Regions from separate parts of the Homo sapiens genome. Here region 2 is linked to region 1. Evidence: fine-mapped QTL for protein levels in blood plasma. A gene starts in region 1. The other region holds a variant in brackets. All regions are shown on one strand. Distances are between the middles of the regions.

Region 1 (5,372 bases):
GAAACTCCTTTCTTCAGCAATAATCCTCTTCCTTTAACCATAAGTAGCTTTTCCACTTATCCTCAATCACATCTCTCTTTTTTTTTGCTTGTTCATTTATTAAGAGAAATGAAACACATGAGCTAACAAGGAGTCTACAAGCCCTAGAAAGAAATGAGGAAGGGTCTTTCTTTGTCCTCGTAAAACGTCAAGAACAGGTTTGGCTACAGAAGGAGAAAGAAATGGATCACAGCAGAGGAAGGGGAGGCTGTAGCAGCAGGGAGTCCATGGGGTGAAAAGCTGGGGCTGAAAGAGAGGTGCCTTTGCAGGATTCAGAGCCCAATGGAGGGCCGAGCGTGGTGGCTCACACCTGTAATCCCAGCACTTTGGGAGGCTAAGGAGGGCAGATCACTTGAGGCCAGGAGTTCAAGACCAGCCTGGCATGGTGAAACCCTGTCTCTACTAAAAATACAAAAATTAGCTGAGTATGGTGGTGGGCACCTGTAATCCCAGCTACTCGGGAGGCTGAGGCACGAGAATCACTTCAACCTGGGAGGCAGAGTTTGCAGTGAGCCAAGATCGTGTCACTGCACTCCAGCCTGGGTGACAGAGTGAGACTCCGTCTCAAAAAAAAAAAAAAAAAAACTCACTGGAGAGAAGTACAGACAGGAAGTGCCAGAAAGCTTCTCAAACCACCCAGCCCAGACCATTTCTTCAGCCTATAGGTGACTCTGGCACCCCATTCATCCATCCTGGAGCCCCATGTTTGAATCTGAACACCATATTTGAAGAGGGATGAGAGATAGGGAAGGTGACCAGGATAAGGAGAGATGTGGTCAATCATATCAGGAGCTTCCCACCCCAGAAGTTGTTCAAATTTAGGTACTGGCAAGAGTATTGAGAGGCCTCAAGGATCACATGGAAGTTAAGGTCACAAAAAGGTTAAAAGTCCCTTCAAGCTCCATGGTCCTGTAAGTCCAGGAATAGTAGAAGGATCTAAAGAGAAGAGCCTTGGAGAGAGGGGGCAAGAGACGGTATGAGAGCTGATACACAGAGGAGAGAGTACTAGTCTTTCTTCACCCAGCCACAGACTTGGCCACTTGGGAAAGTCACTCACGGATCCTCTCTTTCCTCTCTCTCACGTGTAAATACACAAGATGCCATCAGGGGCCTAGAGAATTTTGTGGAATAGGCCAAGTCCATTTCATTTTATCTTCCTACCCAAGGTCCTTTCAAAGACAGGGAGCCTAACTTCTCCTGGATTTCAACAAGCAGACATCTTTCAGAAAACAATATAGACTAATGCTTCCCCTTCAGTGGAAGGGAATTTAAGAATTAGGCCATAAAAAGGAACGAAGTACTGATATAAGCTACAGTGGGATGAACTTTGAAAATATTATGCTGTACAAAGGAAGCCAGTCACCAAAGACCACATACTATGTGATTCCATTCATATACAAGCCCAGAGTAGAGAAATCTATAGAGGCAAAGTAGATCTTAGGGCTGGGAGAGGAGAGGAGAATAAAAGGTTGATACCTAAAGCATACAAGGTTTCTTTCTGAGGTGATGAAAATGTCCCAAAATTGACTGTGGTGATGGCTACACATATCTGTAAAGATACTAAAAACCACTGAATTGTATGCTTTAAATGGATGAATTGTATGGCATGTGAATTATATCACAATAAAGCTGCTTTTAAAAGAAAAGAAGAACATACAGAAGGGTGGCTGGATGACTCCAAAGCCCACAGCACCTTGGCGAGCGGCATTGCTCTCACCACTGTGATCTTCCCCCATGGGTCCTTGTACTTCCAAACCTCAGGGAACCCGAGGGACTCCAGAGACCCAACTCTCAATTACAGCACCTGGAGTGGTGTCTCGCCACAGAAGACGCAGACAGCAAGACAGTTTGACAGCTCTAACCATTACAAACACCTGCAGAAGCTGCTACAGAGCCCATAAATAGCCCCAGGTTTGCCCACCGGACTAGGGTCCCCCTCTGAACTGGAGCTCGCCTTCCTAGCTCCTTCGGCTGTGTCCACTGGAGAGAGGTACACAGGACGCTGGAAAAGAGGAAAAGAGAGGCCATTTTCTCAGACTCTTCCACCCAAAGGCCCTCCCAGTTTGCGGTTTCCTGGACTCAGCAGCCCAGGGCCTGTTCCTGACCATGGAAGGAGGAGGCGGCTTCACTGGTTTATTATCTGGCCTCATCTCCCTCTCCCCCACAGCCCACCTACTCCAGCCACTCTGGCCTACTCCCTTTCCTTTAACGCACCACATACACTCATTGCTTGGAGCACTCTTCCCCAAAGAGCCTCCTCCCCCTGGAAATCTTGGCTCAAATGTGCCTTTCTCCACCCTGGCCACCTCATTTGAAAATCCTAACCCCAGTCTCCCTCACCCTTCTTTATCGTTTTCCCATAACACATGTCATACCAGAGATTTTCCTTATTAAGTGTATATTACCTGCTATTACTAGGCCTCCTTATTCACAACACAGCTTCTTTTAGCCTCCAGAGCCCAGCTGGAGAGCCAGGAGGCTGTGATTAACTACCTTCCCATCCCCTTTAATGAGCCTGTAGTACATGGAACAATCACTCCTGGCCTTTTCTACCTCTGCTTCCGAAGCACCCTTACCAGACCCTCAGAGGATCTGGGGAGAGCTGGCTCTTCATTCCAGTGTTTGCTCACCTCCTGTAAGAACAGTGCCTTCTCCTGGCCACCTAGATTTTCTTTTTCAAGGGGCACCTGCAACCTGTTTTCACAGGTTATCCCTACTAAAACATCATAAAGTGGGCTGGGAAAATACAAGTAAACCCATTTGTAAACACTGTAACTCTACCTCCTCTCATCTAGTAATTCCTTGTTTACTTATTGCTTTCCTCTACAGGACCATAAACTCCTGGAGAGCAGAGACTAGGTGTTTCCTGCCCACCATGGAGAACATATTAGGTGCACAGTATCCATTGGAGTGCAATAGTAAGGACTCATTAATTGTCTCCGTTATCATCATTATGTGGCTTGTCCTGGATCTCCGTCAGTGAGCGACTTGCCAAGTGTGTACACCCATGAACCAGAAGGCAACCCAAGACCAGCCAGAAAAGACGCTTGGCACCCTTTGATGAGTACATTTACCCAGTGACCGCCAACTCTCCCCATTCCCCAAAGTTCTGCAAAGGACGCAGGAAAAGTAAAGTTCAAGGAATAGTGTTCCTAGATCCCTAGCAAAGTTCTAGACCCAAAACACAAAGCCTGGGAGGGGTGGAGGAACGGGGCTTGGGGAACTGTCCCAAGGGCCTCCCCGGCTGATCTCTCCGCACCACCTAGGACTGCCTGAGCGCCCCCTGTGGGTCCACGGAGCCCAGGAGACGCGTTTGGCCCTGTAGACCATCCACATCGCCCGCCCTCCGCTTCTCTCAACTCGCCTCTCGCTTCAGAGTCGGAGGGACAGGGGAAGCGACGCTCAGACACTCCTAGGGCCAGAGGTGGAGGGAGCGAAGGAGACCCTGAAGAAGTGGGAGGGGGTCGGGCCAGGCAGGGGCTGAAGAGAATCGCGCCACAGGCTGGGACGGGAAACGTGGGAAAGTTGGAGTGGGAAGTTTGCGACAGGGAACATAGAAAAGAGCAGAAAGAGGGCAAGATCCCCGCACAGAGGACGCAAACAGAAGCAAGCGGGGGAGCGCGCCTCAAGGGATGCGGGGTACGAGAGAGGGGCCGGGAGCCCGGGGACCCGCGGCGCCTGCCTACCCACCTGAGGCTGCCATGCCGCGGGGCGCCGCTCACATCCCTGGCTCGCTGCGTGCCCGGGGCCGGGACCGGGGCCGGCGGCGTCCTGGCTCGGGCTGGAGGGGCGCCGGGCTCCGCGCGGGACCGGCCGCCGCTCTGGCGCTTCCTCCCTCAGGGCAGCCCGGCCTCGCCACGAGGGCGTGTCCACAGAGTCCGCCCCGCCTGCGGGACTCGGCCCGCGGCACCTGCACCCGCGGCCGTTGGGGAGGGGAAGTGAGAACCCCATGCCGGCCGCCGGCCAGCTCCCCCCACGGCCCCCTGCTCAGGGGCAGCGAGAAGGCGGGGGCTTCGCGCCACGTGCGCCCCACTCCTCGGGAAACCAGCCCTGATCTGCCACCAAAGGGCAGCCCGAGGTGGAGGGGGTGTGGGGAGGAGGCGGAGGGGGAGAGTGTGGGGCTGCCAGGCCTCTGGGAGACAGGGCGGGGGTGTGTGTGTGTGTGAGCACCAGCTGTCCAAGCCACCTCCTCATCGCCTGGGGCTTTGTCCCTAAGCCCCTGCTGCCCCAGCAGGAAAGGGGAGGGGACAGGAAGGGGAAGAGGAGGAGGGCTGGGCACCTGGCCCTGGGTGCTCGGCGTTGCCCTTGAGTGCCCTCCTGTGATCTTTCTGCCGTTCCTTGGATCTGGTCTCCTGATGGCACATGAACATTAATTATAATGTCACATGATAAATGTCTAATAGAGTTTCTCTGCCATTCATTTCCTGTGTTCCTGTCTGCTGGGCGCTGCGTTTAGCACCTTACACACATTATCGCATTGCATCCTCACAGCAACCTTCTGAGGTAGCACCTATCACTGTCTTTACATTGGAGCCAAAGAAACAAGCCAAATACCTTGCTCAGGCTTCCACAGAGAACAAAAGCTCCCGGAGGTTCAGTACCAAGCCAGTCTGCTTCCAGAGCTAGAACTCTTGCTTAACCCTTGCCTTCACCTGCCCTCTTCTTGGACTCCTCCCTTTGCCTGCTGCCGAAATTCAACTGAATAGCACATCCCCTTGGAGTTCTCAACAATCCAGGGGCCAGAAGATGGACCCAGAGAGCAGAGATGAGGCAAGGTTAGGGCTGAAGTCCAGGTGGAAATAAAATGAAATGGATTTAAGAACGGGAATATCAGGATGAGGCCGTGCATTCATTTTCTTCTGTTGCCATAATAAATTACTACAAATTTAGTGGCTTAAAACAACACCAACTTATCATTTTACAGTTCTGTAGCTCAGAAGTGTGACATGAGTCTCCATCGGCTAAAATCAAGGTGGTGGCTGGGCTGGGTTTCTTTCTGCCAAATAGAAGGGAATCAATTTCCTTGGCTCTTTCAGCTTCTAGAAGCCATCCACATTCCTTGGCTCATGGCCTCCTTGTTCTATCTTCAAAGCCAGATGGCCCTGCTTCTGTCATCATATCCCTTTCTCTGACTCTCTTCTGTCTCCCTCTTCCAGTTTTAAGGATCCTAGTGGCCGGGCGCGGTGGCTCACGCCTGTAATCCCAGCACTTTGGGAGGCCGAGGCGGGCGGATCACGAGGTCAGGAGATCGAGACCATCCCAGCTAAAACGGTGAAACCCCGTCGCTACTAAAAATACAAAAAATTAGCCGGGCGTAGTGGCGGGCGCCTGTA
Region 2 (5,372 bases), 99 kb before region 1:
ACTAGAGAAGAAGGAACAGAGGCCAGCAGACCTTCCTGGAGACTATGGAGTATGCCAGATGCAGGCAACAGAAGCTGACATGGGGATGTGGCTGGGGGAATGGAGAGACAGGAGCAGATGCAAGAGGACAAATGCCGCAGAGCAGGACCAAGCAGGACACACCGCTGACTGGGTGAGCGGAAGCACGGGAGAAGGCCAAAGAGACTCTGAGGTCTGATCTCCCTCTCCTCTGTGATGAGCACAGAGAGGCTGTTGGGAAAGGAAAGCGGCCTTGAGGGATGGTTTGTTGTTAGACATGCTGTGAGCCTGGGGCACTCAGGGGGACAAAGCCAACTGGGGCTGGAAACATGGAACTGGAGACACAGACTGCACAGAGAAGGAGCTGAAGGAAAGCTTCAATGTCCATTGTGAGAGGGTGACGTGAAGGAGACAGAGGAGTGGACAGAGAGGCAGAGGAAAAGGAAGATGAGGCCTCCACCCAGGAATGTCTCCACACCACCAGCCCCTGAAGGGGAGATGCTCAGGAAGTGGCTAGAGGCTCTCAGGGAACCAAACAATGTGAGCCCCCATGAGCTGGGATTCTGCCGTATTAAATATAAACCCGTCGTCTGCTATGCCCAAGAGTTCTGGACCAGCTCATGGGAAGGGAAGAGGTCTCTTGGATAGAAACACAGAAAGACATGGCACATGTATACCTATGTAAAAAACCTGCACGTTGTGCACATGTACCCTAGAACTTAAAGTATAACAACAACAACGATAACAAAAAAACCATACTTGGAAAGGATTTACCTTTCTGCAACAATGGACTGGTACATACAGGATGATGGTAATGATAAGACACGTAAATTATGTTCCCACTGGAAACCTGCCCTGTCCACCCCTTCTCATTTCCCTTAACCTTATCCTCAAACTACTTTAGCTGAGAAGCTTTCCAGCAGACTGAGTTAGTGGTGGCTTATACCTATTTATATTTGTATTAATTGCTTACAGATTATACCTCATATTAGCAATTACCTTACACTACAAGAAAATGTAAAAAAAAAAAAAAAGAAAAAAAGAAAGAGAGCTAACATTTATTATGTATTTACTACGTACCAGTTATGCTGCTTACAGTAGCTTATATCACCTAGTCCTCCCCTTTCATATGAGGCACAGCAAGGTCAAGGTCATCAAATAGCAGAATAAAGATGTAAATTCAGGCTGCCAGCTCTAGAGCCCTGGCTGTTCTTAACTACTGTGCCACGTGGTTGCACAACTTGGCAAGGAGCAAAAAAACATTGTTTAGCCAGGGCCAGCCTTTTCTCAGCAGGACTGCAGCCTCCCAGGGGCTCCTGAGTGAAAAGCACCCGTGATTCCTGCATTCAGCTCTCCAGAGTGCCCTCCCACCCTTCAGGCCCCAAAAGGGAGGGAGGCAGCTGGCAGAGCAGGTGCCCCTGTCTTAAGGAGCACTAAAAAGGCAGAAGGCATAGTGAAGGGAGCACAGGCTCTGGGGTGAGAAAGGGGAGGTTTGAACCTTGACTGCCTCTTCGCCTCTCTGAGCCTCAGTTTTCTGTAGAACAGGAGGAGTAATACTTATTTCATATGCGTGTATGAGGAGTGAAAGAGATCAGGTCTATTTAACGCTGAGCACAATGCCTAACATAGCACTGTCGGAGGTCAGCAAATGCGGCCTGATGACATGCTTCCCCACTCTTCACCACTAATCCTGTCCCAGAAGACAGGCTCCTATCTCAGCCCTGGACGGGTGCTGCTTACTCCCCGCCTTGACAGCTGGTATGTCAGATAGCGTAAGAACAGAGATTAGAATACACACCACCAGGGTCTATAGCCATAACACCCTGAACGCGCCCAATCCCATCTGATCTCTGAGGGTAAGCAGGGTCGGGCCTGGCTAGTACTTTGAAGGAAGCAGCCTGGGGAGGTGGAGAGAGAAAGCAATAGTTCCAGTCCTGACTCGGCCCCTCACTAGGAAAGATGCCTTGGACGTGTCCCTTAACCTCCTGAGCCCCATTTCCTCCTTTTTAATACAAAGGCATTGGTGGACTAAGAATGAGCTTCCTAAGGTTAAGTTTGAGTTCTTTTTTTGTTTTTAATTATACATCATGTACACTTATGATACAGGTATGGAGTTATATATTCTCATAAAAGCTTCAAACTATACAGGTAGAGCAAGAGTCTCCTCTGACACCCCAGTCCTCCAATCCCAGTCTTCTCCTGAGAGGTGGCCCCTGGAATGGGCCCGAAGTGGCCGTTTCCAGATCTTTGTCCTTGCATTTATATACATGTCCATAGAAATACAGAGTTTGTGTGTGGACGTGTCTGAGTTGTTTTAATTTGGGTGGTTTTGTATCTGCAACTTGTTTTGTTCATTTAATCATATTTCTTGGGAGTTTTCCAAGTTCTCTTTGAGTCATAAAGTGTGATAGTTATGAGGGTATTTGGCAGTAGGAATAGAGAGAGAGAGACTCTGAAAAGAAAAAAGCTGGAAAGCAGAAGCAGGGAGCCAAATGCAGAGAGACACAGCAGCAGAGTTAGTGTTTGTAGTTGAGTCTTTGTTCCTGATCTCAAGCCTCATGGTACCTGGAAAAGCTACCCAGCTCTCAGCCAGGGAGCCATGTGGTTACAGACCGAGGTGACACTCATACACACTCACTGGTTCACAATGAAACTCAAACATTCGCAGGCACAGCCACAGGTGTCCAGGTACAGCAATACACAAGACAGCCATGGCCCAGCCCTCCTCTACTGTCAAGTGGGGAAATAGACATGAAACAAATTCCATACGAAGCTAGTTACCTGCTGGAAACGAAAGGACTCCGATCGT[T/C]TCTTCTGGTTGAGCTGCCACTCTTTGAAGTGGAGCACAGCCTCATCCACGTTGACAATGCCCAGCTTCACCTGCTCCTGGAGGGTGATAAGCTGCCGCTGGCCTGGCGTTTTCATTCCCGCAAAAGGGTCATATATACTCGACTGGGGCCTGTCCCTCCATGGTCTGACGGGCGGCCCTGGAAAGGATGGCAAAACTCAGCTTGACAGCTCCCCCACTGGGGACCACTCACCAGAAGTGTACGGTTAATGAGGCTGGTCACAGGCTCAAGAGGACTCTTCTCAAAAGAACAATTACATGTGGCCAAGAAGGGGGAGATACAACATAAAATCAGGGGAGAAGAATGCAGCTAATAATTCCAAGGCCTATCACACTGAAGTAGACAAGGCTGCAACATTTAAGGGAGGCGTGAAATCTGCTGACTCTCCCAAGTCTTAACTATTATTATTATTTTTAACAGGCTTCATTCATTTCATTTTTCTGGTAAGAAAACCGTACGTTGTAGCCACAGCTGGAACCTGCGTCTTCTGCTTAGAGACTCTGGTGTGGGTCTTGAGAGATGGTCAGTGAATTCCTGGTAGGGAAACTTGGTGAATACAGTCTCTTTCCAGAGGTCAGGGATCCAGTTGCTAGCAGTCTTAGAGATGGCATCAAAGGTGGCCCAGGGTGGCAGTGCGGTCCCTGGCCAAGGCGTAGCAGCCATCAGCAGCAGCTTCTTGGGCACAGAGGCCAAGATGATGCTTAGTGCCCCTGGGGGCAGGGATGAGGCACACACACCAGCACAGAGCCAGTGGCCTGTCACGTTGCAAAGGCTGGTGTGGGGCTTGCTGATCTTGTTCCCCCTGTAGCCTCTCTGTGCGGGTCCAATGGAGAGCTTGGCTGGGATGATGGCCCGTTGGATGGTAGTGGCTACCCCCTTGGAGTGCTTAATACCCAGACAACATGGCCATTGTAGTCCTCAAAGGCAACAAACACCTTGAACCTGGTGAAATGGCCAGCATGGGTCAACTTCTGTGCCAGCATAATCTTCAGAACCCCATTCTTGAGAGACGACTCCAGGAAAAGGTCAATGATCTCAGACACCTTGATGGGCAGAGAGAAGACAGCTCTCCCAGGACTTGATCTTCACATCTTTGGCCAGATGGTTTAACTTAGTGATAGGCGTCGACTCCTTGTTCTCAGACTTACCTCTATGAGCTCCAGAGCCTTGGCCCCAGCCACAGCCACAACCTTGGCCTGATGTCACTGCCAAAGCCTCCAGGGAGGCCATCGCAGCCTGCCATTCCAGGACCCCCAGGCCCTCCCACTGCATCAGCATCATCCACCATTTGGTGTTTTCTTGAAGAAGCAGCCAAGCCTTAATTATTGAGACGCCTTTAGACAAGTATTTCTCAACCTTGGCACTATTGACATTTTGGGCCAGGTAATTCCTTACTGTGTGGGTGTGTCCTGTGTATTGTAGGATGTTCAGCAGCATCCCTGGCTTCTACCCATTAAATGCTAGCAGCACCCCCTTCTTGAGTTGTGACAACCAAAATTCCCTTATATTGCCAAATGTTCTTTAGGGAGGGGGTACAAAATCACTTCCAATTGAGAACCACTGCTTTAGACTTAAATCCATACCCAGAAGAGAATACACTGGAAGAGTTTAGCCAGGATGCTTCTCTTAGCCCCACTCTCATCCCTCACTGTCTCTAAGCAGCATGAGGCACAGTGATTGTGGACCCATGGGCATGAAATGCCCCAGGAGACTGGAACATCAGTGGAATCCTGACACAGGCCCAACAGCATCAGGTATAAAGTAGGTGCTGGCTTCCAGCTGGCTACCCTTGGGTTGTTCCTGTGCCAACCTCTCTTCTACATTACAAATTCACAGTTCTCTGCTTTGGAGCTTCTGGAGAAATATGAAGCCAACCCTCATCTCTCTACAGGCTGTGACTTCAGTTCTGTGGGGAATGAGCTACTCGCAGCGACCATGGGGCCACTGAGGCAACTTGACGTTTCACTCAATTCATACAAGGCTATTTGGATCTAAATTTCTCCAGCAGGACTCCATTTGGGCATTGTGACTCAGGGACATAACATGAAGAAAAAAGAGAAATGGCTGCACCGGTGAGTACTGAAAAAGCCTCAGAGACGTTTATCTATCATTCTGCCCAACCATTCACTTATCTGTCCGCACACACCCACACATCCTTCTCCCAGGTCTGCCCTTGTCAAGGCTCTCTTTAATGGTATTGGGAGACACAGTGGAGGAAAAAACAAAATGCACAAGCCAACCAGTTCCAGTTTCCTACTACCAGAGCCCTTTGGGGGATGCCTTCAAATGCTTAGATGGTGTCATGGCTACTTTTCAAAAGAATCCTCAATGGGATAATACTGAGTGTTTCTGTTTAGCACAAGGAAATTAATCAAGAGAAAAGAGCACTTAGCTCCTCAAACTTCCTTTAAAACTGTTTAGAAAAATAAGACTTCCAAGTTGTTCCCCAATGGCAAGCAAAATACCTTTTAAATAAAAGTTGAATCAAAGTATAGTTTAGCTAGT

Direction of the effects. Alleles are on the strand shown, and positions count from the first base shown. The strength of an association depends on the size of the effect and on how common the allele is.
With allele C in place of T in region 2, the plasma level of the protein whose gene starts at base 3,862 in region 1 is lower (moderate association).

Evidence for each region. PIP is the chance, under the fine-mapping model, that this variant and not a neighbour inherited with it causes the effect. Protein levels are from antibody-based Olink assays in UK Biobank. Linkage for the fine-mapping came from a reference panel and not from the study's own genotypes, which makes the PIPs less certain.
Region 2: its variant is fine-mapped to the plasma level of the PIK3AP1 protein (UK Biobank, PIP above 0.99). The variant lies in the coding sequence of PIK3AP1. If it changes the protein, the assay may bind it differently, which can mimic a change of level.

Annotation. Positions count from the first base shown.
Region 1 is chr10:96,716,653-96,722,024 of GRCh38, forward strand. It overlaps PIK3AP1 (phosphoinositide-3-kinase adaptor protein 1), which reads right to left and starts at 3,862. Exons shown (of 17, transcript NM_152309.3): 1 at 3,730-3,862. The coding sequence starts at 3,742. RefSeq lists enhancers at 3,384-3,493, 4,344-4,453 and silencers at 3,624-3,873, 3,924-4,223.
Region 2 is chr10:96,617,553-96,622,924 of GRCh38, forward strand. PIK3AP1 (phosphoinositide-3-kinase adaptor protein 1) reads right to left here. Exons shown (of 17, transcript NM_152309.3): 12 at 2,800-3,005. It also overlaps the pseudogene RNA5SP324 and the pseudogene RPS2P36. Among named protein-coding and RNA genes, the nearest start is that of TM9SF3, 33 kb to the left of the region's middle. RefSeq lists a silencer at 4,865-5,086. The variant T/C (reference allele first, on the strand shown) is at 2,828.